Linked DNA regions of Homo sapiens: regions 1 and 3 are each linked to region 2. Evidence: fine-mapped expression QTL. A gene starts in region 2. Each other region holds a variant in brackets. All regions are shown on one strand. Distances are between the middles of the regions. Region 1 overlaps CHD5 (chromodomain helicase DNA binding protein 5). Region 2 holds the start of CHD5 (chromodomain helicase DNA binding protein 5). Region 3 overlaps CHD5 (chromodomain helicase DNA binding protein 5).

Region 1 (7,281 bases), 26 kb after region 2:
GTCCACGGGGGCAGGTCAGCCACAGAGGGGGCCCCATGTGAGGAATTCTCTGAGCTGTCACAGAACAGGAGGCAAGAATGGGCTCTGGAGGCCTCCCGCAGCCTGGATGGGCAGACTGGTTCTCAGTGCTGGGAGACGCTCAGGGCAGCCTCCTGTTGCAGGAGCAGAAGCCCAGCTCCGGGGCCTAGGCAGTAGAGGGATGTGTGGGATCAGGGCCCTGAGAACTAAGAGGCAAGGGGCTTCGGGGTTGTGGGACCCAGTGGTGTTATCAGAGGCTGTCTCTTTGCATCATTCACTCTGCCTCTGCTGTGGCAGTGTTGGGCTCAGGCCAGGCACCCTCATGGCTGAGCATTCTTGTGGCTGAGAATGAGGGCAGCAGCAGCTCGGGGCTTCTTGGCCCCTCCAGCAGGAGGGAGAGCAGGCCTCCCATGTCCAGGTATGCAGGCAGGAGACCAGCATTCCCTCTGATTGGACTGGCTTAAGACATGACTGGCCTGACCAGACTTTGGCCTAGGAGTGGTGTGTACTGATTGGCTTAATGTATCAGGTTGGGTGGGGGCAGCTCAGGGCTGCTTGGAAGAAGTGGGGTGTCAGGGAAGGAAGAAGAAGGGTGGGTTGGGTGCTAACAATTGCTAACGCATTTTGACACACCCTGTTCCAAGCACCTGCACTAAGTCATTCTGTTCTGCAAGGCAGTGTGCCATTATCTCCATTTTACAGATGGGGAAACCGAGGCAGGAAAGTTAAGTAACTTATCCACTTCTTACCACCGGTATGTGGCAGAGCCAGGATCAGAACCAGCCCATGCCCACATCCGGCACCTCCCTTTCTGAGCCCCGCCAGCCCGGGCCTGGTCATCTGGTCACCTGACCCCTGGGCTAGCTCTCTTGAGAACTCACTGTGCCCCTGGGATGTCCCCCCACCCCAGGCCTCAGCAGTAGTTGGATCCTCTCAGGGCTGTGCCCCCAGGATGTCCCTCCACCCCAGGCCTCAGCAGTAGTTGGATCCTCTCTGGGCTGTGCCCCCAGCTGGCCCATTGTCCCATGCCCCTGCCCCAGCAGAGTGCACTTTCCTTTCACTGGAAACTGGCAGTGGCCTGTCCTTCACAAGGGCTGACGTAGCTATACCTGGCATCCTGGGGAGGCCTCATGTCTTTTTTTTTTTTTTTTTTTTTGAGACAGAATCTTGCTCTGTCACCCAGGCTGGAGTGCAGTGGCGCCATCTCGGCTCACTGCAACCTCCGTCTCCCGAGTTCAAGTGATTCTCCTGCCTCAGGCTCACAAATAGCTGAGATTACAGGCACACACCAACACACCCAACTAATTTTTGTATTTTAGTAGAGACAGGGTTTCAGCATGTTGGCCCGGCTGGTCTCTAACTCCTGACCTCAAATGATCTGTCTGCCTTGGCCTCCCAAAGTGTTGGGATTACGGGCGTGAGCCACCACCCCTGGCCTGGAGGCCTCATGTCTTTCTAAAGTGGCTTAGGCAGCCCTGGAGCCCTGCGGCCTCATCAGGGACATCTTCCCGTCTTCAGGCCACTGTGCTGTCCTGCTGTCCAAATCCCCAGAATGCAGTCCCCACAGAGGGCAAGTTCTGTTGTCCTGCCCTGGTGTCCCGAGGCTGGTCGGGCAGCCCTATCTCAGGATGGGGGCCTGGTCTCAGGCATCCAGTCTCCTTGCCCACACCTGGCTGATTTCCCTTTCTGGAAGTTCAGGGCACACACATGGCCTCTCCCCAAACCCTGACGTCGAACACTTGGCCTGCACTTCGTGGGCTGGCATCTGAGACGTGGCACAGATTGGGGGCTGCGGGGCTGCGGGGCTGCAGGGCTTGAATGTTTCCTAGGGTGGGTGAGAATGGTCTGGTTACATTGCAGACACAACCCCTCCTCTTTCCCCTGTGCCAAAGCCTCCTAGGCAGAGACCCTGGGGATGGGGGTGCAGGTCAGAAGGCCCCTCAACAACTCTACCTCTGGCCTGGGTCTCTGTAGGAGCCCAAGTCCTCGGGGCAGCTCATGGCCGAGTGGGGCCTGGACGACGTGGACTACCTGTTCTCGGAGGAGGATTACCACACGCTGACCAACTACAAGGCCTTCAGCCAGTTCCTCAGGTGGGCGGGGCACTAGGGCTGTTCTCCAGGCCCGCACATCCTCTGGTGGTACCAAGTCGGGAGGGAGGCAGAGGAGTGAAGCCCCGGCACCTGGGGTAGGGGTGGGCTCTGTCAGACCGACTGAGCAACCTGGGGGAGCTGGAGGGAGGGGGCAGGACCCCTTCATGTTAACAGACCACCAGGCCTTCCCTTGTGGGCCCTGCCCCTCAGCCCTTGAGTCTCTTCCCCTTGGGGAAGGTGGTTCCAGTCTTTCCTGGGGGGTCTTTCACCACCATGGCCTCTCAGCTCTGGTAGAGGTGGGACGGAGACCCCAAGGCCCACTGTAGCCCACCTGTGGCCCCACAAGTCTTGCAGGGCCTGAAAACCCAATGAGAAAATCACCAACTGTGTGGACAGGAAGCTGGGGTGTTTTGGGGGTGGGCTGTGGGTGTGGACAGGAAGCTGGGTGTTTTGGGGGTGGGCTGTGGGTGTGGACAGGAAGCTGGGTGTTTTGGGGGTGGGCTGTGGGTGTGGACAGGAAGCTGGGGCGTTTTGGGGGTGGGCTGTGGTCAGTGGGTTTCCCGCCTAATCTCTCTAATCAGGAACCTGGGGCTGCTGCCATAGATCGCACATGTGGCAGAGGGGTGGGCCCTGCCGGGGGTCGGGTGGGCCTCTCATCTCACCTGGCCTTGCCCTCACCCTCCTGCCTCTCCCCCTACAGGCCACTCATTGCCAAGAAGAACCCGAAGATCCCCATGTCCAAAATGATGACCGTCCTGGGTGCCAAGTGGCGGGAGTTCAGCGCCAACAACCCCTTCAAGGGCAGCTCCGCGGCAGCAGCGGCGGCGGCGGTGGCTGCGGCTGTAGAGACGGTCACCATCTCCCCTCCGCTAGCCGTCAGCCCCCCGCAGGTGCCCCAGCCTGTGCCTATCCGCAAGGCCAAGACCAAGGAGGGCAAAGGTAAGGCTGGGGTTGGGTGGGCACCTAGTCCCGCTGGGAAGAGGTCCCTTTCAGACCCTATAGGAGAAGCCACGGGGCAGACGCGGGCAGGGAGGGGCAGCTGGGGTGCTCCTAATGGAGGGCTCTGTGCCTGTGTGACCTTGGATTGCCCGGTCCTTTCTCAGCAGTGAGGCAGCATCGTCGCCTCTTTTGTGCCTGACTCCCTTTTGGGGTTGGTGGAGAAGCAGAGGCGATGATGTGGGCAGAGGTCTGGGAGGTTTGAGCCTGGCCAGCCAGGAGGTGCCCCCGACGTGGGCCTGGAGGGAGGGCGGGACCAGAGGTACGCAGAGTGGAGCCGCTCCAGCCTGGGTTTCTGGGAGTTGGCAGGCTCTTGGGTTTGAGCCTGTGCCGTTTCTGGGGAGGAGGAGGAGGCCCCAGTCGAGCCCGTCTCTTCTTCTTGTCTGCATACCCACTGTGTGCAGGGTTGTTCTCCAGGCCCTCGGCCAATGTGGAGCATGGAGGCCCTGCCCCTCCAGCTTTAGGATCCGGGAAGCAGGCAGGAGTTGGAGGGACTGGGCACGGCCAGGTCTCGCTTCCCAGGGAGGCTGTTCTGGGACAGGCCTGGAAGGAGATCGAGATCCAAATTCTGCCTCAGTGGCAGGGC[G/A]TCTGGGTGGGGAGGATGCAGGCAGCAGAGGCCCCCTGTGACTTGAAGGCCCTGGGGAGGGAGCTTTCTGGGTGCAGGTTTCTGGCCTTTTGGAGGCTGGGGATGTTGATCTCCCCAGGGCTGTCAGTCACCTGCAGCTCAGCTTTCCTGGGTGCCCTGATTTGTTTTGTTTTGTTTTGTTTTGTTTTGACAGACTCTCACTCTGTCTCCCAGGCTGGAGTGCAGTGGCACGATCTCTGCACACTGCAACCTCCGCCTCCTGGGTTCAAGCAATTCTCCTGCCTCAGCCTCCTGAGTAGCTGGGATTACAGGAGTGCATCACCACACCTGGCTAATTTTTTGTATTTTTAGTAGAGACGGGGTTTCACCGTGTTGGCCAGGCTGGTCTCAGAACTCCTGACCTCAGGTGATCTGCCCACCTCGGCCTCCCAAAGTGCTGGGATTGCAGGTGTGAGCCACCGCGTCTGGCTGATTTGGGTTTTGATGGAAGGGGCTGAGGGGGCTCCGGGGATCCCTTCTTTCAGCCCCAAGGAGCTTTAGTTTCTGGGGTTCTGTGTCTGGCATCACCATGCCAAGTCTCTGAAGGGAGCCTGGTGGGTGAAGTGACAAGGGTCAGAGTCTGTTCCCTGTCCTGCTCCATCTGTCTGGGCCATCAGGATCTCGGGAGGGGCTCCTGGCCCGCCCCTGTCTGCCCAGCCTGCCTTGTTTTCTCATTTCCTCTCGCGCTCCAGCTGCTGAGCTATCGATTCCATGAGCTGCTTATTCAGAGCTTGGAAAATTGAAATAGATTTTCCGCGGCGCCATGGAGGGTGCAGCTGGGCTCCTAGCTCCATGTCCGTGTGTGTGGTGTGGCCAGAGGACGGCCTGGGGAGAGGCTGCCTCTGTGGGGTGTGCATCCCTGCCTCCAGGCCCCCCTTCCTTCTTGGGTCATTACTCCCCAGGTAGCTAATTGCCCTGTGGCCAGCTCCATAAAAACAGCCTCAGCCCTGCTGGCCCTTGCTGGGGTTGACTGGCAGAGGTGGGGCAGTCTTGGGTGGGACCAGCATTGCCTGGCTGGCAGGTGGGAAAAGGCCTTTTGGCTCCAAGACATCCTTTGGGGGCTCAGGCATGGACCACAGGTGGGCGGCTGTGCCTTCAGTGGCCCTGCTGGCTGTGGGGGATGGCTAGTGCCTCCTTTCAGTGGTTGGAGACGGTATAGGGGATCCTCCCAAAAGGGCCACATTTCTGTGGGTCATGGACAAGGGGCAGCAAGGCGGTCAGGGCAGCCTCCAGTCAGAGCCGTCATCTGGTTTTTGCCTCACTTGCTGTGTGATTTTAAGCAAGGGGTTTACCTCTCCAAGCCTCAGGCATCTCATCTGAAACGGGGTGATGGTAGAAATGACCCTTTCCTTATTGGGTAACCGAGAGCTCAGTGAGATGATGGCAGGAAGCAGGCCGTCAGTGGTGGCAGTGGTTGGCTATCATCACTGCTGTTTTTCAGGGCCTGGAGTGAGGAAGAAGATCAAAGGCTCCAAAGATGGGAAGAAAAAGGGCAAAGGGAAAAAGACGGCCGGGCTCAAGTTCCGCTTCGGGGGGATCAGCAACAAGAGGAAGAAAGGCTCCTCGGTGAGTGTGTGCGTGTGTGCGCGTGTGTGTGCATTTGCATGCATGTGTGTCTGCACATGAGCACGCAAGGGCCAGGCGAGGGCCTTCAGTTCATTACAAACTAGCTGGGGCAGGTCGCACCCCTCCACTATTCTCCTTCCATCCTACATGCAGGTGTGCTGGGCCTCAGTTTCTCCATTTGTGTGATGAGGAGTTTAGATTGAATCCTTCCAAGGGCCCTTCTAGCCTGGACTCTGGGCAGGGAGTGCTCCCCTGGCTCACCCTCCTGAGTGGGAGCTCAGTCCTGGCTCCTGCTGTCCACAGCTGCAACTCCATTTGGGCAGGAGGTGGAGGGATCTGTCCTGGTGGGGCCTGGCCGCCCAGCACCCAGGTCTGCTCTCGGGGGGAGTAGTTGGGTGGGGGCTGGACCCTAGAGAAGTGGTATGTGGGTAGGATCAGGCTGGCTGGAGCCCCAGTTACCTCCTCCTGTCCTCAGGGCCAGCTCTGGGCCCAGGCTCAGACACTAAGCCCAGGTCTTACTCAGCCTTGGGGCCCCCCTTTCTCTGTGAGTGTGAGGGGCATTCGCCCTCCTCACCCCCACAGGTAGCTGCCTCCCTCACCTCACCCCAGCCCTGCGGTGGGTGGAGTTGGAAGCTCTTTCCCTGCACCATGGCAGGAGCCAGTGTTAGGTCTGGAGGGGAGCATGGAGAGAAGGTGTGGCCCGCCCTGGAGCTGACGGTCCAGTTCAGCTTAGCAGATATTTGTTGAGCACATACTGTGTACCAGGCCCGCTGCTCAGCCACAGTGGGCCGTGGTCCTGTAGCACTCGTCACCTGGCAGGCATGTTTGCTGGTGGAGAGCCCGTGATGTACCAGTCAGACAGGACAGGCCAGACCTGGCACACACGCAGCCACAGTAGGTCCAGTAAAGGAGAGATCTGGGAAGACTTCTTGGAGGAGGTGTCCCTAGGGCTGCCCCTTGAAGGATGTTTAGGAGTTTGGCAGGATGGAGGGCAAGGCCTGGGAAGCTGTTCAGAGGTGGAAATTGTGGGAAGTGTCTGAGGCTGGAGAGCAGGGCTCTGGGTAGGCGGTGGGACATCAGGCTGGACAGGCAGGCTGTAATGTGAGGTTTTCAGCTGTGTTGGGGGCTGAGATGAATCACAGAGAGCACTGTGTCTCCAGAGCCTCTTCCGTGCTTTGTCCCACCCCACACTGCCTGGGCCAGCGAAGCCTTCTGGGTGAAGCCCTGGGATCACAGGACCCTGTCTTCCCCTGCAGAGTGAAGAAGATGAGAGGGAGGAGTCGGACTTCGACAGCGCCAGCATCCACAGTGCCTCCGTGCGCTCCGAATGCTCTGCAGCCCTGGGCAAGAAGAGCAAGAGGAGGCGCAAGAAGAAGAGGAGTATGACTCCCCTTCCAGAGAGTTCTTGGCCTGCTGGGTGGATGTAGTGGGGCACGAGTAGGACTCCCCATCTGGACGGTTCTCGGCCTGCCGGGTGGATGTGCGGGGCATGGAACCTCCCCGTGGGAAGCAGGGGGAGGGCATCCTCATGTCTCAGCCAGGTGGGGCCCCTGTGTTTCCCACACGGCCCTGGTTTCTACTGTCTGGGGAGGGGCATCCTGTCCCAGTAAGGAAAGAACAAGGAACCTATGGTGGGAGCTACCCCAGGGCATTTGCATTAGCAGTGTGGTGACTGGAGAGGGAAGTGCTTCATCTCATCGCCATCCTCCCTTCAGTCACCCCCCACCCACTTAACACCCATCTTTACCTCACCTTCCTTCCCATCCCTCCTTCTCCCTCCTTCCCTCAGTCCCTTCTTTTTATCCATCCATCCTTCATCCATCCAGCCATTCATCCATCATCCATCATCAATCCATTTGTCCATCCATCCGTCAGCTATCCATCCACCATCCATCCATCCATCCATTCATCCATCCTTTTGTCCATCCGTCCGTCCGTCCGTCCGTCCATCCATCCATCCATCCATCCATCCATCCATCCTAT
Region 2 (7,281 bases):
CTCAGGCTTACACAAGGATTTTCTCAGGTTCAGGGCCATGGCCCAGGGCTGCCTTTTTGAGAAGCTCCTTCCTCCCCTGCAACCCCAACTGATTTGAATTCAGGTGGTGCAGGGTCCACACTTTCGGAAAAAGCCTTCAAGTGCAACGAAAGTCTTGGTGCAGCAGGTGGGCACTGAGCCTTCATTGCAGAGGACACTGCGGTCCTGAGTGACGCCGTTTCACCCCTGCCGAGGAGGAGGTGTGGGGCAGAGTTTTGATCTATGTGACTCGCTGTGAGGTGGTGTATGTACAAGCACTTCATTGCCCTTGAGAAGCTGGTGGTGCCAGGTGGCCACAGCGTGGATATGCATTGTTGAACGAAATGGCCTCAGGCAGGCCTTGGGGGTTCCTGGATGAGGAGTTCATTTAGTCCTGGAATGGAAATTGAGTATGGTATGTGCAGAAGACGATGAGCTTTTTCCACTCTGTTCTTGGAAAAAGTTTTTTTTTTTTCTATTTTTGAGACAGTCTCGCTCTGTCACCCAGGCTGGAGTGCAGTGGCGCAATCTTGGCTCACTGCAACCTCTGCCTCCTGGGTTGAAGCGAATCTCCTGCCTCACTCGCCCGAGCAGCTGGGATTACAGGCGCCCGCCACCATGCCCGGCTAATTTTTGTATTTTTAGTAGAGATGGGGTTTCTCCATGTTGGCCAGGCTGGTCTCGAACTCCTGACCTCAGGTGATCCATGACTGCCCGCCTCGGCATCCCAAAGTTCTGGGATTACAAGTGTGAGCCACTGCACCCAGCCGAAAAAAGTTTTTTCCTTGATGCTTTTGTAACCGGTATATTAAAAAATATTTTGATTTTGGAATTGTCACTGAGGTGTAATTATGAGCTCTATGATCAGCAAACATGAGAATCTTGTCTCCTAAAACAGTAACCTTAATGATAGGCTTGTTCTTGCAACGCAGAGTTGCAAGTTTCAGGGATTGCTTTTAACGTCATGCATTTTTGGTCCGTTGTCATTAAAATACCCATTTAATAGTTTAACAATAATAAGGGCTCACCTTTAAAAATGACTGGAGAGCCGGGCATGGTGGCTCACGCCTGTAATCCCAGCACTTTGGGAGGCCGAGGCAGGCGGATCACGAGGTCAGGAGATTGAGATCATCCTGGCCAACAGGGTGAAACTCTGTCTCTACCAAAATACAAAAAATTAGCCAGGTGTGGTGGTGCGCGCCTGTAGTCCCAGCTGCTACTGGGGAGGCTGAGGCAGGGGAATCGCTTGAACCCGGGAGGCGGAGATTTGCAGTGAGCTGAGATTGCGCCACTGCACCCCAGCCTGACGACAGACACCATCTCAACTCCCCCCCTTGAAAAAAAAAACCCAAAAAACCTGGAGATTTGTAGTAAAAAAATCCATTTGTTTCTAGCATTCCAGTTTTTGTTTCATTTTGCTTTTGGACATTAAATAATATTACCTAGTTGCAGTCATCGGGAAGAACAGGATGGGGAGAGGATTATGACTGATGAGCATCTCGGCTCTAATTTGTTGCCAGATTAAGCAGTTAGAACTGTTCTTTCTTGAACGATATCTTGACTTTCAGCCTCGCCTTGGGAATTGGAGCCAGGGTTAATGATGGGGGCGGCTTTCTGGTGATGAGAAGTATTGTAAATCAGAGTTTTTCTACCGAAGGGCAGGGGACCTTTGAAAGGGATTAGAGAGGTGTTGGGGGGCTGGTAACTGAGGGGTGGGCGTGTCAGCTTAGGGCTTTCTTCCCTTGTTGGTCACCATTCATGGAGGCAGTTGGTCTGGAAAGAACGAGGAAGAGGCAGGTTTGGTTCAAGCCTCGGTGATCTGGGGCTCCCCCTGGCTAGCTGCTCTGTGGGGAAACACGGCCTTGGGAGGGGAGGCCCTTTGGTTTCCTGGCCTGCTTCCCTGAAGAGTGTTCCTTTCCCCTTGCAGGCGGCCAGCACTGGGCTGACCCGGCTTCTCTATCTACAGCGTAGTTAAAGCGGATCTGGGAGATGGAGGGGTTCCCAACACCCCAGTCTTTGGTTCCAGAAGGCTGGACCGACCTCTCCTTGCCCAGGGATGAATGCAGAGGGTCTTTTGTTTGGGGTTTGCTGGCAATAAAATTGAACGGGAAGAAGGGAAACTGCTGCCGATCCTGCGTGTCTCAGGTGGGTTCCCCCAGTGCCCCTGCGAGGCAGTGAGAGGGGGCCCTCCCTTCACGGGCCTTCTGGGGTTAGAGAGCTGGCGGTCGGCCAGCCCCTGGAACTTTTGCGTTCTTAAGGTAGCTTTAAGACTTGCCGCCGCGGAGACTGGAGGCGCTCATTTAAAATTCCAGTCTTGCTCCCGAGGGCTTTGGCCTCCATCTTCACCTTTAACGACCGAGGGCTGGTGGCGGCGGCTCCTTCCTGCTCTGCGACAGGTGTCGCTTCTGAGCGGGAGTTTTGGGCACAGACATCGCAGATCCGCACCACCCCTAGGGGTCTGCATGGGTTTCAGCTGCACCCAGCCTGGAGGGGCTTTTTGGAAGGGGGCACGTGGGCGGTGGGAGCGGGGAAGCAGGTGAGGGGAGCCCGCCTGCGCGGATTTTTCTGCTGTAAATCAGACCCACAGTCTCCAGAGCGTCTTTTCCCCAAGTGTGGAACACATTTTTCTTCTAATCCTCTTTGGAGAGGGGGTTAGGAACGTGCCGAGGCCGGAGCCGGGAGCGGGGTGGGTCCCGGCGCCTGTGAACCGAGTGGGGGAGCGGGCCGCGCGCTGCCCTGAAGACCCTGCCTCCGCGCCCTTGGGGGCTCGGGGCCCAGCGCCTTCGCAGGCGAGCGGCGGCGGCTGGCTCTGCCCGGGGTGCGCGGGGGCGGTGTTTCCTCGCCTCCCCCTGCGCCCGGGCTCGCCAAGCCCCGACTGCCCGCTCGGCCGTCGGGTCCGCGGGCGCGCGGACGCCTCGACGGCTCCCCCTGCCGGGGCGCCCCCCGGTCCCCACCCTCACCCGGCGGCTCAGGACTAGTCCCCCAACTTGTTCTCTGCTGTTAACTAGTCGCGCTGCCGGAACGATGGGATGGGGTTGCCACAGCAACCAGACTGGACGTCACAATCCGGGCATGTGTGCCGCCCCCCCGCCGTGCCGCCGTGCCTCTGGCGCTGCCGCCGCCACCCTCGGCCGGCTGCGGGACTCGGGCTGCGGGGCGCGGTGGGAGGAGCGCCCGGGCTTTGCGGGGAGCAGGCTAAGGCGGCCGAGAGAAAGGGGGGTCGAGACGGGGGGGTGGAGGTTTGGGGGGGTGGGGGGGCAGGCGGCCGCCATCTTCTCGCCGAGGCCGCCTCGCCCGCCGCGCGCGCCGGTCCGGCAGCGCACGGGTTAAGGCTGGCACCGCGCCCGGCGGGAGGGGGGGCGCCCACCTCCCCTCCTCCCCGCGCCGGGCATGCGGGGCCCAGTGGGCACCGAGGAGGAGCTGCCGCGGCTGTTCGCCGAGGAGATGGAGAATGAGGACGAGATGTCAGGTGAGCGGGGCGCGGGTGCGCCTGGGGCCAGAGCGGCGGGGGCGCCGAGACGGGCCGGGCCCAGGGCGGAGCGCGGGCGGCGGGGGCGGCGCGGCCGGGCTGGCGCCTCGCAGGAGGGGCACCCGGGTTGCGGGGCTGCGCTCCCGCCCTGCTGGCGCCGCGCGGCCAAGGGCGAAGGCTGGGTGAGCGCCCGGGCCGGCGTGAGGGCGGCTAAGGGCGGGGTGCGATCCGGGCCCCCCGGGCGGCGACGCGGGCCAGGCGGGCCAGAGGACCGCGGGCCGGGGCCTGCGCTGGGGGGCGCGGCGCTGTCAGGGTCAGCCCGCGTGCCCTTGAAGGGGGCGGGAATCGCGCTAGCTCCCGGAGCGGCGCACCCCGCGCTCGCGTCCCGCCGCCGTGCGCCTCTGGCCTCGCTGCGGGCAGGCGGGACCCGGCCCCTGGCCCATGTCGGCCGCGGGGCGGGCTGGGTGGGGCCCAGAGAGGGGCGAGGACCGGCGGTGCTTGGGGACGCGTTGAGCGCCCAGGATGGGGCGGCTTCCCTCCCGGCCCAGGAGGACTCCGCTCTGGGACGCACGGGCTCGGACCCCTGCTCCTCTTTCCTGGCCTCTGTGCGCTGTGACCGCCGCTCCCAAGCACTTTACCCGGGCCGCCGGCGTCCTTCTGGCGCGACCTAGCGCCCGCCGCTGTCTCCAGCCTCACCATCGCCCAGGGTGGTGGCCGTTCCCAGCCCACCCTGCCTTGGCTACGGGCCTGACGCCCCAGGGCCACCGCCCCTGCCCCTACCATCTCTCTCCTTTTATCTCTCTCAGAATTTAGTATACACAGGGCTGTGCGCCAGGGGTTGCCTTGCGGGACAGTTCTTTAGTTAACTGCTCACCATTTGTTTGGGACGTTTTCCCTCCTGGCACAGCTGGGTAGGGCCCCACCCTGTCAGCCACCCTCCCTCCTTTCTGGGAGACTCTTACTTCTCGGCTTCCCTGCGCCAAGTCTGTGGCCTCTCTGGACTTCGGAGAGACTTGTGGGAGGCTGGAGGCCCTCCCGGGCCCAGGAACGTGCATCTGGCCCCTTCTGACTTCCAGGGGTGAGAAGACTCCACAAATGGACACCTCCAGCTCCTGTTGGAGGAAGCAGCCAGCGTCTTCTGGGGAGGGTATTCCCACCAGGTGGCCACACCCCCTGCCCCCTTCTGTTTGCTTGCTTGGTTAGTTGGTGGCTTTAATGCTGTCACTGAGCTCCTACAGGAGCCCGGCACTCACCTCGCCTGTTAGACAGGCCAAGTTGGCAGCGAGCGTGCTGGGGACGGGGAATAGGGGAGTCCTCTCTTGGGGTGGAGTTGCCTGGACAATAGTTGACTGTCATATCCTGGGTCCTTGGAATTAGACCCATTCTCCGGAGGGGAACTCTGAGGCCCCGCACAGGCACAAAAAAAAATCAGTGGCCATTTTCCACCTAGGAGGCTGGCTCCCCAGTAAGCCAGTTTACTGGTTTTCTCAGCAAGTTGTTTGTTATGGTGTTTGGGGTGTGGCCCTTTTGTGGGATCAGTGGCATTTCTGGGGTTGCACCGACCCGCTGGTGGAGTCCCCTGGCTGTCTTTCCCATCTTACACTCCGGCTCTCTCTGACTATGTGGGGACTTAGAGGTTGGGGAGGGGAAGAGGCCAGGGAAGGTGCCCCCAGTCTAGTAGGCACCCGACTCACTGCTTGGGCCAGAGAGGCGGGGCTCTGGTCATCCTGCCCACCACCCGTGCTCCCCCTCGGTGGGTTGGCCCCAGAGCCTCCAGGAGTGCCCCCAGAGCCCTGCAGAAGAGACGCCCTGCTCTGGCACCTCTGGCCTGGGGATTCTGTCCCCATCCATCAGCAAGGCCAGCTGCTCCACCTCCAGAGCCTTTCCAGGCTCCTGGCTTCTCTCCATGTTCTGGGTCCAAGCCTCTGTCCCCTCCTGCCGGTCCCCTCCAGGGCCTTCTACCCACTCCTTCTGACCACCCACTGCACAGCAGCTGGGGTCACCTCGTGAACCCAAGTCAGATCCCGACCCGCATGGCTCCAGTCGCCTCTGAAACCCTTGTCCCGGGTCCACTCCTGTACCCCTTTGTTCACAGCAGCCACGCTGGCCTCCTTGCTGCTTCTGGAACACTCCACGCTCCACGCTCCATCCTGCCATGGGGCCCTGGCTGTGACCTCTGCCTGACCTGCTCTTTCCTCTGCTCACCGCTGCCTCCTGGTCATTTAGGTCCCAGCTCGAATGTTATGATGGGGAGGGACACCCTTGCTAAGGGCCTTCCAGTCACTCTGAGACACATTGTCATGCTTTCTTTGGAAGAGATGGGGTCTTGCTGTGTTGCCCAAGCTGGATTTGAACTCCTGTGCTCAAGCGATCCTCCTGCCTCAACCTCCCTAGTAGCTGGGACTACATGCTTGTGTCACCACACCTCACATACTCGAAACGTTGTCATCAGTTTCCTCCTGGATCTGTGGGTTCCCCTTCGAATGTAACTCTCGATAACCTGCCATGCCCAGCACCTGAAACCATGCGTTCCTGAGAGATGGTTGTGGTTTCAGTGTCTGAGGGCTGGGACTCTCTAGGTCACCCCAGCTTCTGGCTGTGAAGACAGCCCTAGCCAGGCCTCCTGTCAAGTCGCACTGCTGGCCCCCCACTCACCCTGAGCTCTTCCTCATAGCCCCTATGCAGCCCTGAGTCCAAGCTCAGTGGCGGTGACCCCCAAAGACCAGAACCAGCTGGTTCCAAAAGATGGAAGTTTGTGGCTGGAGGAGCTAGTGTTTTGGAAGCTGTCATGATGATTTTTCAGTCTACGGCTATTAAACTCATGACTTGTCCGATCTTTTTTCTTTGACTCTGCTCATCTCCCACCTCCCCCTGGGAGTTGCTCACTCTCAGCAGTGAATTATTGTTTCCCGTGCAGTGATGGTGGGGAGGGGGAGGTTTGCCCTGGCCAGCTCTGGCATTGAGGCAGGTGTCTGAGCCAGCTTCTAGGAGGAAGGCAGGGCGGGTGCCTCTTCTGGTTGGGGGACCAGCAGTTGCCAGATTCTCCTGGGAGTTGGGGTGGCTGGTTGAAGCCAGGGGTCAAGAGCTGGTGGGATGAGGCCTTGGCTTCTAGCTCTGAGCATTAGCTGAGTGGTCTTGGACAAGCCAGGCAGCCCTCTCCTCGGTGTGCCCACTTGTAGTATGGGGACATAGCACTGGCTACCTCATAGAGGGTTATTATGAGGAACAGTGAGACAGTGCATGTGGAACATTAGGCCACAGTGCCCAGCACATGATAGGTGCTCAATAAACTGTGGCTGGTGTAGTTAGCACCAGCCAAGGAGGGCAGCTGTCCTGCCTTCTCCAAGGAAATGCTTCTGATACTTGCATCCTTAGCCAGTAAGCTCAGGGGAGTAGGAGCCTGGGTGGGAGGAGGGCTGTGAAGCCCAAGGTAGGGGTGGCAGGAAGCAGGAGAGGGCTTCAGAAAATGTGGCTCTCAGCCCTCTTAGGGCCACTGCTGGGCTGGCAAATTCCCTGCCTCATTGGCCCAGCTTTTCCTCAATCACAGACAAAGCTAGTGAGCCCAGAATGGGCAATGTCTGGACTAGGCACCGTTACCTCTCTGGCCCCAGTGACAATTGGCCCTAGATGTGTAAGTATCTTAGGCTTGCTTCCTCAGGTCCAGGGGCCAGGAGAGAGTGACAGTCATGATTCCCAAAAGGCCATGACATTTTAGCCTGCACCCCTACCCCTGTGGAAGCATGGTTTGGTAGGGGGGTCCCAGGGAGCCTGATTGTATTTAACATTCTTTTCTG
Region 3 (7,281 bases), 36 kb after region 2:
TCCTTGGAGGGCCAAGGCTGCTCCCACCCATCTCAGGGCCCGAGTGGTGTGGTTTGTGGCTGTTGTATTTCTTGCCTTTGCCAGCCAGCAGCTCACTGTCACCCTAGCATCTGTCAGGGCCCCTGCAGTGTGTCTGTGGGCTGCCAGAGATGGGGCCTCATTGTCCCAGCCTAGACGCACGGTGCCTGGGTGCAGCCCTGCCCCGGGTGAGGGATGGTGGATGGGGCTGCCGTGTCCCTGGGCTCCAGCACAGGGCTCATGCTCCCTGAGTGCTTGGGGATCACACAGTGATGTGACCTCTTTTCAGGGGGCAATGGGAAGACCTAAGGTAGGGGAAGTCCAGAATCTCATGTTCTGCTCCCTGCTCTGCTGTCCCTTGCCGAGTGGGCCTCAGTTTCCCCCTCTGTCCTATGCACATGGCAGTCTCACCTACGCTGGCTCAGATATTCTGGGTGCCGATAAGTTCACCATTGAGTGAAAGGGCCACGTGGTCTCACAGACCCCCACTGCCCATCTCCTGTGTGCATGACCCATGCGGCTCCTGGGGACGGGGTGGATGTCATGGCGTCACCGTGGTACTGTTCTGACTTGGGGGCAGTGGCACTGATGGGAGGGAGCCTGCATGGCAGCCTGCTGTCATGGGAGCCTCAGGGTGGGGCCCTGCAGCTGAGCCCCACCTTGGGGACCCTTCTCTGTCCACAGTGCCCCCCACTGAAGGGCAAAGTCCAGCGGATTCTACACTGGAGGTGGACGGAGCCCCCTGCCCCCTTCATGGTGGGGCTGCCGGGGCCTGACGTGGAGCCCAGCCTCCCTCCACCTAAGCCCCTGGAGGGCATCCCTGAGAGAGAGTTCTTTGTCAAGTGGGCAGGGCTGTCCTACTGGCATTGCTCCTGGGTGAAGGAGCTACAGGTGAGTGCCCGGGAGGGTGGCTGTGCTAAGGCCCGGGACCTGGTGAGCCCTGGACCCTCCTGGGCTGGCGGGAAGGGGCTGAAGCGCCTCTGACTGAGGGGTGCTGTTGGGAGTTGGGGTGGTGCTGAGCGGGAGGATTGTCCTGCCTGGGACCTGGGCTGGGGCTAGAGGAGCTGGGTAGGGAGATGCAGGGGACCATGGCCCATCTCCCTTCTGTGACTTTGTGCCGCTCCATGAGCAGCTGGAGCTGTACCACACGGTGATGTATCGCAACTACCAAAGAAAGAACGACATGGATGAGCCGCCCCCCTTTGACTACGGCTCTGGGGATGAAGACGGCAAGAGCGAGAAGAGGAAGAACAAGGACCCCCTCTATGCCAAGATGGAGGAGCGCTTCTACCGCTATGGCATCAAGCCAGAGTGGATGATGATTCACCGAATCCTGAACCATAGGTGTGTGCCTGCAGGCGGCCACCCTGCCCATCGCTGGGGCCGGGCCACGTCAGCTTCTTTGCCCTGTAAAATGGGTGCAGCGCAGGGTGCCAGGGCCCTTGCTTTGGGGCTGCCGTGCAGAACCACATGTGGGCACAGCAGGGGCACAAGGAAGGGCCCAGGGTTCCCAGTGCTGGAGATCTGCCTGACCTGCTAGAGGGGCCGTCCCATGCATGCCGGCACACTCATGCATACGTGTTCACACCCCTGGGGCGTCGGGACCCTCATGCTGGGTTAGTGCTTGATACCAGCAAGAGGGTTCTGAGGACGAGGGACGCCCGAGGTGTGGGAGTATGTCCACATTTCCCCCGCGTTTGTAACAGCAGCTGGCTGTACTGAGCACTGCCTACCCTGGGAGGGAGGCGTCTTACTTTCACCTCTGTTTTACTGATGTGAGAATAGGCACAGCAAGGTTAAGTCGCCAGAATCACACAGCCACGGGGTGGAGCTGGGATTTGAACCCCATGCTTTCTGACTGCAGGACCTGCTTTCTTAGCTACTGTTGCACCCCCCAGTGCCCCAGCAGCAGCTCTTCCTGGAGCAGTCTGGCAGTTCCCTGGGATGCCTTAGCAATCAGAGGCTGCAGGAGGCTGGCACAAAGAGCCAGAGGCAGGAGGCCCGTGGGCTTTGGTTTTGATTTGGTGGGTGGTGGGAATGCCTGCTGATTCTTGAGTTGAGGTGCTTGAGAACTGGTGGTGGCTGACAGATGGGCCTTGGGGTGGGGCCCAGAGTACCTGCTGCCTGGTGGCAGCTTGGAGCTTGTGCTCCCCATCCCAGCTACCCTGTGGCCTCTGTTTTTGAGGGGCTTAGGATCGGTGGCCTCTGACACTCAGTGCTTCTGGCTTCAGGCAGCTGTTGGGTAGAGCAGAGGTTAAAAGCCTGAGCCAGATGTTCAGATTTCAATCCCGGTTCCCATCTGCTGAGCTTTGAGGCCCTTTTAGGGAACAGGCTGCTGCACGGGTGACAGGAGCTTGCCAGAGGCTGGCTGTGGGTGGTCTTCAGTACGAGGGTCGCGGAATTTGAAAAACTGCCCCCCTTCAACTATGGGACACCCCCCTTTTCCTCCCCAGGCCTCCCTGAGAATGACCTTCAAGGGTCAGTTCCTGTGGGAACCTGAGCCCGGCAATGAATTGGCCCATGGTTTTCTACCTTTACTAAATTACATGCTAAAAATATACATGGTAGTTTTTCTCTCTGCCCCAAAGTGGGGCAGGTGAATCTCCCCCAGATTTGTTCCCCCAATCTGCAAAACAATCAATTATGTATGGGAAAACAAACAAACATCGGTTGCCGTGGTAACGGGATCGGTTTTTCTCTTAATGTTCCCAGGCCCGCAGCAGCCGCTGCTCACCGGGTCTGTGTGCCTCCTCGGCACTGCTGTGTGGGGTAGTCAAGCCCC[A/G]GCCCGGCCCTCCAGCACTCCTCTGGCCTGGTTGCCTTAGCCTGGGTGGGTGGGAGGCCCTAAAGACCCTCCCAGTGGCCAGAATCAAGCTGTGTGCTGCTGGGCTTGGTCACTGGGTCTTTGTGTCCCCAGAAGAGACCACCTCACACGCAGGAATTGCATCCTTATCTACTTTGCAGAGATGACTCCTCACCCTACGTGGGCACTGCACAAGTCCTTTGCGTATTTTAAGTTAGAAAACTGAGTCCATTGGCAGGAAGGAGAACTTTCCAACTTAGAAATCCAGAACTCCTGTGAAAATCCAGACCCTGTGACAAATGGGATTCATCCCTGCCACAGAGGCTGCAAAGGATGTGGGAGGCTGGCTCATTGCTCCTCTGTTAGCTGGCCTCCGTGTCCCTCTCCAGCTCTGCCACATCCCCCTCTCATTCGCTGTGTGGCCCCAGGCAAGCCGCTGCACCTCCCTGGAGCTTCTGCCCTCGTCTCCTCCTCCTGGCTGGGCCCAGCATCCGAGGGGACCCTGGGTGTGAATGGCTCTGCATCCTGGGAGGTGCCCTTCATCAAACCTGTGCTGTGGCCACTGCTCTGAGCGACCCACATCTGTTCACCGTGTTGCAGCTTTGACAAGAAGGGGGATGTGCACTACCTGATCAAGTGGAAAGACCTGCCCTACGACCAGTGCACCTGGGAGATCGATGACATCGACATCCCCTACTACGACAACCTCAAGCAGGCCTACTGGGGCCACAGGTGGGTCGCAGGGATCCGGCTGCTAGGCACAGGCTGCCGGGACCTGCTCCTGGGCTGAGCCTTGCTCACCTGCCTCCAATGCCGTTTCCCAGGGAGCTGATGCTGGGAGAAGACACCAGGCTGCCCAAGAGGCTGCTCAAGAAGGGCAAGAAGCTGAGGGACGACAAGCAGGAGAAGCCGCCGGACACGCCCATTGTGGACGTGAGTGGGGAGGGTGGGGCAGCAGTGGGTGGGGTTGCCAGGGCCTGCCCACCTCAGACTTGAATGTGCAGGGGGTGTGTGTTCTCAAAAGGATGTTTCCTTGGGCCCTCATGGCTTATGCAGACAGTGTCATGCCCATGTAGGCTAGGACAGCTGGAAGGCCCCTCATAACACTGCAGCTGACATGCTACTTACACACCACTCTCACCTGGGAGGAGACCCAGGATGACTCACTCAGCAGAGCTCCCTGGGTGTCCACTAGCGCCTGGCCCTGGGTTGGCCCTGAGGAGACGAGGGCCAGTGAGCCCTGGGTAGCTGTTTCAGAAGACACACTGTCTTCTAGGGGCCCTTGGTGGGTATCCACAGAACACGGAGGGCCTGGCCTGGGACTATCAGGCGCCTGTCAGATGCTGGGGAAAGGCAGATGGGCCTGGTCCATTGGGAGGACTGCATGGGGCCAGTGACCTGGAGCAGGATCAAGAGACAAATGGGCCGGGCATGGTGGCTCATGCCTGTAATCCCAGCACTGTGGGAGGCCGGGGTGGGAGGACCGCTTGAACCCAGAAGTTTGAGGCAACGTAGTGAGATCCCACCTCTACAAAAAATTAGCCAGGCACGGTGGTGTGCCTGTGGTCCCAGCTACTAGGGAGGCTGAGGTAGGAGAATCCCTTGAGCCCAGGAAATTGAGGCTGCAGTGAGCCATGATTGTGCCACTGCACTCCAGCCTGGGCAACAAAGACTCTGTCTCAAAAAAAAAAAAAGTAAATGTCTGGATCCAGTGGAGGAGCCTGTTACTGGGGGCGTTGCGAATGCCCCAGATGGATGTTCGTTTTGTTGTTCATCCAAAAAATGGTGAGTAAGTGACCACATGTCCCAGGCACTGTGTGGTACTCAAGAGGAGGCAGTGAACAGGACCAAGGTGGTGATGACAACCTGGGCTCAGAGTCAGAGAATTCAACAGTCGGGAAATTTCCCTGATAGGAGAAGTACAGGGCTGCCATGGGAGGACACTGTGGGAGCACTTCAGCCAGGCTGGGAGTCAGGGAGGGCTTCCTAGAGGAAGAGGTGTTCCATCCAAGAACTGGAGAAGAGTTAGGAAGACAGACAGGAGTGGGAAGAGTGTTCCAGGCAGAAGGAATTGCATGTGCAAAGGCCTGTAGTGTGGACTCTGGTGGCCCAGGATCTGGGGCGTGTCTGAACCGCTGCCTCCCCTGCAGCCCACGGTCAAGTTCGACAAGCAGCCATGGTACATCGACTCCACAGGCGGCACACTGCACCCGTACCAGCTGGAGGGCCTCAACTGGCTGCGCTTCTCTTGGGCCCAGGGCACTGACACCATCCTGGCCGATGAGATGGGTCTGGGCAAGACGGTGCAGACCATCGTGTTCCTTTACTCCCTCTACAAGGAGGTGGGCAGGCGGGGCAGGCGGCCAGGAGGGGTGGCTGGTCCTGGCCAAGGGCAGGTGGTCTCACGGCATCGGCCTCTCTCTCCAGGGCCACTCCAAAGGGCCCTACCTGGTTAGCGCGCCCCTCTCCACCATCATCAACTGGGAACGCGAGTTTGAGATGTGGGCGCCCGACTTCTACGTGGTCACCTACACGGGGGACAAGGAGAGCCGCTCGGTGATTCGGGAGAACGAGTTTTCCTTTGAGGACAACGCCATTCGGAGTGGGAAGAAGGTATTCCGTATGAAGGTGAGGGCTCGCTATCCTTGGAAGGACGGTAGGAAGGCCCCCGGTCTAGTTCAGGGACCACGGGTGCCGTGCACTCCTTTGGGGTCCCTCAGCCTGGGAGGGCTACCGAGGCCGGCAGGCTCTGAGGGGCTTGTCCTAGAGGCTGAGTTACAGCCATGTCAGTTTTCTGGGGCTCCTGTAACAAAGTGTCACAAATGGAGTGGCTTCAAACAGCAGAAATGTATTCGGTCACAGTTCTGGAGGCTGGAGGTTGGAAATCAAGGTGAGGGCAGGGCCACGTGCCTCTGAAAGCCCTAGGGGAGAACCCTTCCTTCCTCCTTCCAGCCTCCTGGTGGCGGCAGGGGTTCACTGGCCTACAGCTGTCGCGTCAGTTTCTGCCTCTGTTAGCACATGGGGTTTTCCCGTTTGTGTCTGTTTCTCATCCTATAAACACATCATTCATACTGGATGTAGGGCCTACCCTAATCCAGTATGATCTCATCTTAGCTACTTATTTTATTTATTTATTTATTTATTTTTTTGAGACACTGTATCGCCCAGGCTGGAGTGCAGTGGGGCGATCTCGACTCACTGCAACCTCCCCGTCCTGGGCTCAAGTGGTTCTCCCACCTCAGCCTCGTGAGTAGCTGGGACTCCAGGAGTGCGCCATCATGGCCGGCTAATTTTGTATTTTTTGGTAGAGACAGGTTTCACCATGTTGGCCAGGCTGGTCTTGAGCTTGTGACCTCAAGTGATCTGCCCTTCTCAGCCTCCCAAAGTGCTGGGATTGCAGGAGTGAGCCACTGTGCCTGGCCCCAACTAATTATTATTATTATTATTATTAATTATTATTATTATTTTTTTGAGACGGAGTCTCACTCTGTCGCCCAGGCTGGAGTGCAGTATGGCACGATCTCAGCTCACTGCAACCTCTGCCTCCCGGTTCAAGCAATTCCCATGCCTCAGCCTCCAGAGTCGCCGGGATTACAGGCACATGCCGCAATGCCCAGCGAATTTTTTGTATTTTGGTAGAGACAGGGTTTTACCATGTTGCCCAGGCTGGTCTCGAACTCCTAAGTTCAGGCGATCTGCCTGCCTTGGCCTCCCAAAGTGTTGGGATTCCAGGTGTGAGCCACCACGCTCAGCCTATTATTATTATTATTATTATTATTATTATTATTTTGAGACAGGGTCTCGCTCTGTCACCCAGGCTAGAGTGCAGTGATTGATCATAGCTCACTGCAGCCTTGACCTCCCGGGAGCTGGGACTACAGGTACACACCACCACACTCAGCTAAGTTCTAAATTTTTTGTAGAGATGGATTCTCCGTATGTTGCTCAGGCTGGTCTTGTACTTCTGGGCTCAAGTGATCCTCCTGCCTCAGCCTCCCAAAGCATGGGGATTATAGGCATTGAGCCACCATGCCCAGACAACTAATTATGTCTGCAAAGACCCTATTTCCAAAAGAGCTTCTGGGTGGACATGAATGTTGGGGGGACACTATTCAATGCAGTGCACCAGCTGTGTGACTTCTGGCAAGTCACGTGGCCTCACTGGGTCTCAGTGTTTTCTCAGCAAAATGGAGTTAACAGACACACCCCACAGAGTCAAGTGAGTTAATAAGCATGAGGTCTCATGGTGCTGTGAACCCTGCAAGGTCTTGTTAAAGCACAGTCTCTGACCCAGCAGTGCTGGGGTGGGGCCCGAGCCTCTGCATTTCTTTTTCTTTTTCTTTTCTTTTTTTTTTTTGAGATGGAGTCTCACTCTGTCGCCAGGCTGGAGTGCAGTGGTGCGATCTGGGCTCACTGCAACCTCTGCCTCCCAGGTTCAAGCGATTCTCCTGCCTCAGCCTCCC

The links.
Region 1: its variant is fine-mapped to the expression of CHD5 in whole blood (TOPMed, PIP above 0.99).
Region 3: its variant is fine-mapped to the expression of CHD5 in whole blood (TOPMed, PIP above 0.99).

What each region holds. Positions count from the first base shown.
Region 1 is chr1:6,150,429-6,157,709 of GRCh38, reverse strand. CHD5 (chromodomain helicase DNA binding protein 5) reads left to right here. Exons shown (of 42, transcript NM_015557.3): 4 at 1,993-2,111; 5 at 2,812-3,050; 6 at 5,174-5,298; 7 at 6,555-6,678. Among named protein-coding and RNA genes, the nearest start is that of CHD5, 26 kb to the left of the region's middle. The variant G/A (reference allele first, on the strand shown) is at 3,694.
Region 2 is chr1:6,176,151-6,183,431 of GRCh38, reverse strand. It overlaps CHD5 (chromodomain helicase DNA binding protein 5), which reads left to right and starts at 3,111. Exons shown (of 42, transcript NM_015557.3): 1 at 3,111-3,487. The coding sequence starts at 3,409. RefSeq lists enhancers at 3,854-4,353, 4,354-4,855.
Region 3 is chr1:6,140,293-6,147,573 of GRCh38, reverse strand. It overlaps CHD5 (chromodomain helicase DNA binding protein 5), which reads left to right. Exons shown (of 42, transcript NM_015557.3): 10 at 703-909; 11 at 1,151-1,362; 12 at 3,419-3,550; 13 at 3,643-3,751; 14 at 4,969-5,160; 15 at 5,246-5,446. Among named protein-coding and RNA genes, the nearest start is that of CHD5, 36 kb to the left of the region's middle. The variant A/G (reference allele first, on the strand shown) is at 2,801.